Homo sapiens: one gene and its partner. The protein of the gene in region 1 purifies or fractionates together with the protein of each later gene. This does not show direct contact. Each region holds a gene or a part of one and is shown on either strand. Other genes may lie near its edges.

Evidence for each region. The genes of interacting proteins can lie anywhere in the genome.
Region 2: the proteins of S1PR2 (region 1) and HPCAL1 purify together in Homo sapiens (affinity purification with mass spectrometry; 2 studies listed by BioGRID and IntAct, with this or other methods). This does not show direct contact.

Annotation. Positions count from the first base shown.
Region 1 is NC_000019.10:10,224,832-10,228,331, forward strand, and holds part of S1PR2 (sphingosine 1-phosphate receptor 2), read right to left. Parts: intron 117-3,500; 5' UTR 75-116; coding exon 1-74. UniProt on the Homo sapiens protein: Receptor for the lysosphingolipid sphingosine 1-phosphate (S1P). S1P is a bioactive lysophospholipid that elicits diverse physiological effects on most types of cells and tissues.
Region 2 is NC_000002.12:10,309,404-10,312,903, reverse strand, and holds part of HPCAL1 (hippocalcin-like protein 1), read right to left. Parts: intron 1,202-3,500; exon of another isoform or gene 1-1,201. UniProt on the Homo sapiens protein: May be involved in the calcium-dependent regulation of rhodopsin phosphorylation.

The DNA.
Region 1 (3,500 bases):
AGCGTCTCCTTGGTATAATTATAGTGTTCCTGGACCTTGTTGGGGTTCAGGTACTCCGAGTACAAGCTGCCCATGGTGGGGCTCAGAGGCCTGCTGGGGCCATGGGGCTTTCAGAACTGCAGAGAAGACAGACAGACAGACAGACAATAGGTCAGAGCTGTGGCTGCTACCTGGGCTCTGGCCTCGGATGGGCTGAGATTCAATTTCCTGCTCTGTTACTCTTCGAGGAAGGGCCACATGAATTCAGAATCATCATCATCCCCACTTACAGACGGGAAACCCAGAGAGATTAATTCACTTTCCTAAAGTCTCAAATTTAACCAGCGGCAGGGCCAGAGAGACTGGCTCTGCGGCCTCTATAAGCCCTAGGCTACGCTCTTTCTTATTTATTTTATTTATCTATATTTTAAAGACAAGGTCTTGCTCTGTCATTCAGGCTGGAGTGCAGTGGCGCAATCATAGCTCCCTGCAGCCTTGAACTCCTGGGCTCAAGTGATCCTCCCACCTCAGCCTCCCACCTCAGCTTCAGCTACAAGCACATGCCACCACGCCTGGCTAATTTTTTTTTTTTTTTTTTTTTTTTGAGATGGAGTCTCCCTCTGTTGCCAAGGCTGGAGTGCTGCGGCACGGTCTTGGCTCACTGCAACCTCCTCCTCCTGGGTTCAAGTGATTCTCCTGCCTCAGCTTCCTGAGTAGCTGGGATTACGGGCACCTGCCACCAGGCCCAGCTAATTTTTTTTTTATTTTTAGTAGAGACAGGGTTTCACCATGTTGGCCAGCATGGTCTCGAACTTCTGACCTCATGATCCGCCTGCCTCGGCCTCTCAAAGCGCTGGGATTACCAGTGTGAGCCACCGGGCCCAGCCGCCTGGCTAGTTTTTTTGTTTTTTAGAGATTGGGTCTCACTGTGTTGTCCAGGCTGGTCCTGAACTCCTGGCTTCAAGCAATTCTCCTCGGCCTCTCAAAGCAATGAGATTACAGGTATGAACCATGACATCTTGCCTCTTTTAATTTTCATTATTATTTTCTAGAGATAGGGTCTTGCTCTGTCACCCAGGCTGGAGTGCAGTGGCATGATCATAGCTCACAGTTGTCTCTACTCCTGGGCTCAAGTGATCCTCCTGCCTCAGTCTCCTGAGTAGCTACACGCTTTCAAAGGGAAAGAAGCTCCCCCAAATGGCATGAAAAATATAATGTGGACTTCCAGAAACCTTGCCCACCTACCCAGAGAGCAAGCCCTAGGCAGGTCCTGGAGGGTTTGTCTCTTTTCTGGAACACACAGGCGCCTGCGCCCTCATGCTGACCTGGGTCAGGGAGAGTCTCACCACTGATAGCTCCGTGCCCTGCTCATTCATTACCACCCACTAACGCTGGATTTCAGGCTGGGTCTAAGCCTTGAGGCCACGGGTGCTCCCAAGATAAGGTCTTGGGGAGACACCAGGGCGGCCCTGAGATTCAAACATCCCAGAGGTCACACCATCTTCAAGGACACAGACCTTGAAGGCAATCCAGAATTTGCTCCCATTCCACCTCTGAAACACTGGGCAAGTCCCTAGACGCTGTCTCAGCCTGAACCTCCTTATCTGTGCAATAGAGAGAAGAAAGCCCACTTCATGGGGGTGATGGGAAAATCCTTTTAAATGACGCATGAGGCACGTTTAGCTCATAGTAAGCACTCAACAAATACTGCCAAATGTTATTAGCTCCCCTCTTTCCTCCAGTCCTTTGGGAAGGGAAGGGATGTAAGCCAACCAGACGAGATCTCCAACAGCCTGTTCTCATCAGCACCATCTAGCTCTGCCCTGGGACAGAAGGTCCTGCCGGGATGGGCAGGGCGCTGGCACCCCCTCCCCAGCCAGGATGAAATCCAGATGTGAGGCCCCTGGAACAAACAGGGTGGAGTCCTCACTCTGCAGTCACATCCGGTGTGAGGAAGGCGGGATGTAGGGGGAGTCAGGATGGGAGAGACCCCATCTGGGAGGTCCTGGCTGGGAGGATGGGGCAGCTTTGCTGAAGTCATGTGAGCCGTGAAGGGGTGTGCAGCCCCGCCGGGAGGGGGTAAGGCATTTGTTCCATGAAAACCTGAGTCACCCCCCCAACCCCCTCCCATCCCTCCCCTCCACCCTCTTCCATCCCTCCCTCTACCCCCTCCCATCCCCCCCCATCGCCACCCACCAAGGAAAACTGAGCCGTGGTGGGAGGGGGCGGGGAGAGGCGCTCCTCGGCAGAGAGGATGAGAGGCAGACACCATGGCCTTCCCCCAGCTTGGGGGTAGGGTTAGGGGTTGTCAGAGGCGCCAGTGCAGTGTATGCCTTTCATGAAGGGAGAGGAAGTTCCAGCCTTAGCTAAATGGGAGGGAGGGGGGAGAGTAGGGGGAGTCCTCCTCAGGTCCCTAGAAACACGTCTGGCAAGGACTGTGTGCACCGTTCCAGAAAAGTCTGGTTAGGCCAGTTCTCCTGAGCCCAGGAGTGATGGAGGTTTCCGGAGTCACCCAGCCATCTCAGTCCCTGGCCGCCCCCTCCAAGGGGCATCCTGGCCCCTGGCTGGATAGAGGCAGCTGCTCCCCCAGGGCGGAGGGACATCCGTCCTAGTTTGGGAACAGACAAGGGCTTGTGCACGTCCCCGGGGACTGCTGCCCCTCCCAGATAGCCACACAGAGGCCCCTTGTTCCCTTGCTGGACGCAGCCCCGGGCATCTTGATGCCCTCTGCACGCTGCAGCCAGTCCCAGGCAGGCTTGGGCCCAGGCTGCGGCTGGATCAGACACAGCTGATGGGCCGGAAACAGCCCATGCTCTGATTGGCTCATTTTCAATCCAAGGGCACTGAGCAATTTGCCTATTGGCCCGGGCTTTCCATCTTCTGCCTCTGATTGGTCCAGTTGGGGGCGCTCTACGGCCAGCCCTACCGATGGGGTCCTTTATAGGCGACGGGAGCTCAGGCTTTCTGAGGATAGAGTTAATGCTATGTGGACGTCCCTAGGGGGAGTTTGAACCGCAGCCTGACCTCTGGGTCACCCCGACCAGACACCCCCAGGCTGCCCTGGCCTGCTGGGCCCCTCCTGGGGTTCATAAGTGAGAATCAAGGTCCCTTTCCAGGCCTGGGGAGCACGCTGTGCAGTGCAGCCGCCCCCTCTGCTGCTCACCAAGAGATTTGCTGTGGCTTCCTGGATAAATAAGAAATGTGTTTAGGCCGGGCGCAGTGGCTCATGCCTGTAATCCCAGCACTCTGGGAAGCCGAGGCGGGCCTATCACCTGAGATCATGAGTTCAAGACCAGCCTGGCCAACATGGTAAAACCCCCCTCTACTCAAAAAAAAAAAAAAAAAAAAAAAATTAGCCGGGCATGGTGGTGTGCGCCTGTGATCCCAGCTACTTGGGAGACTGAAGCAGGAGAATCGCTTGAACCCGGGAGGCAGAGGTTGCAGTGAGCCAAGATCGCAGCCATTGCACTCCAGCCTGGGTGACAGAGCGAGACTGTCTCAAAACAAAACAAAACAAAACA
Region 2 (3,500 bases), on another chromosome or scaffold:
TGATGACGATGATAGTGATGGTGATGGTGGTGGTGGTGATGATGATGGTGATAATGACAGTGATGACAGTGATGATGAATGGTGATGATGACGGTGATGGTGACGATGGTGACAATGATGATAATGACGATGATGGTGATGATGACAGTGATGGTGAATGGTGATGACAGCAATGATGGTGGTGATGGTGATGATGATGGGGATGGGGATGATAGTGATGATGATGATGATGATGGTGATGGAGAAAGGTGATGATGACAGTGATAATGATGGTGATGGTGATGGCAATGGTGGTGATGGTGATGATGATGACAGTGATGGTGATGATGATGAGGATGGGGATGACAGTGATGATGGTGATGGTGGTGGTGATGATGATGGTGATAATGACAGTGATGATAGTGACGGTGAATGGTGATGATGACAGTAATGATGATGGTGATGGTGATGATGGTGATAATGATGATAGTGATGATGATGGTGATGACGACATTGATGGTGAATGGTGATGATGACAGCAATGACGGTGGTGATGGTGATGATGATGGGGATGAGGATGATATGATGATGATGATGATGATATGATGATGATGATGATGGTGATGGAGAAAGGTGATGATGACAGTGATAATGGTGGTGATGGTGATGGTAATGATAGTGATGATGATGGTGATGACAGTGATGATGGATGTTGATGATGACAGTGATGATGATGGTGATGGTGATGATGGTGGGGATGATAGTGATGATGATGATGGTGATGGAGAATGGTGATGATGGTGAGGATGATAGTGATGATGGTGATGGAGAATGGTGATAATGATGGTGGTGATGGTGGGGATGATAGTGATGACGATGATGATGACAGTGATGATGAATGGTGACGATAACAGTGATGATGGCGATGGTGATGATGGTGGTGGTGATGGTGATGACAGTGATGATGATGGTGATGATGACAGTGATGATGAATGGTGATGAATGGAATGATGATGATGATAGCGACAGCAATGATGATGGTAATGATGATGATGGGGATGGGGATGATAGTGATGATGATGATGATGGTGATGGAGAAAAGTGATGATGTCAGTGATAATGATGGTGAGGTGATGGATATGATAGTGATAATGATAATGGTGATAATGGTTTTGGGGAGCCAGCAACTGGCCCAGCACAAACCACAGGGGGAAGGAGCTACAGGCCACAGTGAGCCCTTTACACTGCTTGGCGATCCCTGGCCCCAAAACCTGGAATTCCTTACCTGTGCTCTACATCTTCTCCCCCCACTCCCATCCACACTGTGAAAATAATTCTCAAATGCATAACCTTTCACCTTACAATGAGCTCTGAGAATAATCAGCCAGGCCGTATTGTTTTTAGATAAGGTAACAGCATATCACCAAGAACATGTGCTCATAAAAGCAGCAATTCTTTATCCCTGGATGTCTTCAGAAAGAAGAGGGGAAAGCACCTCCTAAGAAATAAGAATAAATTGTACCTGCCAGCATTCCAGCATGAAGGCAAGCAGGGCCTTAGCACCTGCCAGAGCCCTGCGTCTACCTTTACTCGCTGGGAAGAAAGACACAGAGAAGCCACGGCAGCCACATCTCATGTCCCACCCCTGGAGGCTAAGCCCCTGCCAGGCATCCAGGCTGCATCACCAGCACGGGCTCCAAACTGCATGACTGAAGAGTTTCTAATAAAGCACACCTCAACCACTGCTGAGGGATTGGGGGGCGGGGGGACAACCAGTTCTGCCACCCATGGCCCTATCTCAGCCCCTGAAGCTGGGGGCTTTTCTGGACCTCCTACATCCCACACTCATTCTGCCAGGAGTGTCTCCAGCCACACACAGTAAATACGGAAAACTGCATGATGTTAAAAATGATTTTTTTTCAACATAGGTGATCGATTTCGAGAGGTTCTCACTTCTCTCCAAAAATTGATTACAGGGCAGCAAATAGAAAAGATGGGAGTGAAAGGGAGGAGTTGGGGCTGTCATCAATTCTGCTTTCTGGAAACGTCTGTTAAATGCACAGAAAGAAGGCAGAGAGCTGAGCATTTTGCTGCTAGAGAAAAAGAGCGCTGCAGTCGATACACACTGCTGTACAGAACCGCAATTCTGCAAGTGTGCCCAGCAGTCCTCCTCCGGCCTGCCAGCACGAACACTCCCAGACCCGATCCATGCTCTGCACACACTCACAGAGGGAGGGGACCACCAGCTCCGGGCCTCGTTATGCCTGAGGAACAACCTGCAGCTCTCTCTGTGCAACCCCCACCACCAAGCTCAGGGTCTCTGTAGGTGCATCAGGGACCCTGACAGATGCTTCTCAGAAGGCATGAGGCTAGGACAATCCAAAATGGCAGCTCCCCAAACTCCAAGCAGTAACCAGCACTGGCTGCCTTCCGGAAGCCTCCACACGCACAGCAGTCACAGACTCCAGCATCAAATCCCTTGCTACGACAGCCTGGATCAAAACATGCCTCATAAGCCCGAATTTGAAAAGGAATTCTGTACTCAGTGGCAGAGGAGGCACTAGATCCAAGAATGCTTAAAGAGTAATGGCAGCCACCACCACTTATTCCACACGTGACCAGCCAGACTCACCTAGGTACTCACATCTGCGTCCCCATCTACGTCTGAGCTGCGCCTAGAACCCCTTTCTGCACATGACCAAACAGACTCAGAGAACATCACCAGCCAGTAAACAGAGCAAAGACTACAGTTCAAACCCAGTCTGCCACATCTGCAGACCTGGGTTTGAATTGTAGTTCCTGTCAATATCTGAGCTCAGCCTAAAACCCCTTTCTGCACCTGAGCAAACAGATTCAGAGACCATCACCAGCCAATAAACAACAGAGCAAAGACTACAATTCAAACCCCAGTGTCCCTGATCTTTCCAAGGTATTTTGCAAATGAGGTTCTAATACTCCGATTCAAGAATGTCTTGGTTCTTTCCACCATGATTTCTTTCATGGTTTCTGTCCACCATGAGAGTTCTCTACAACCATGGGAGAGAACGGTCATTTGTGATCTACCTGGCGTACAATGGGTATACAATTTCTGTGTCTTGGTTTGTGCATCTGTCAAATGGCATCTCATCCTCTGCTCTCTTCCTCAAAGAGTGAAAATGATCCAAGGTGAGAAATGCATCAGAAATGCACCAAGCCACCCAAGGCCACAGCACCACTGCATTCAACGCCCTCCCCCAGCCCCTTCTATTTACCAGGAGACCTCTCTACACACACACATTGCTTGAACCATCTCTACCTGTTCAGTTGTGGACTAGGTAGGTACTGGGGCAACACTGTGTGAACATGTGTCACACAGCACTCATGCCCTAGAAGGAGCTTCCATGGCTTAGGAAGGGATGACAAGACTCGTACAGGAAAATCTGAACACCAGCCCAGGCAAGGCCATAAAAGGGCATATCATTACTACCAAAACAAGGGCGGAAGAGAAAGTGACCTCGTTTAATTCTTGATCCTTCTACTTT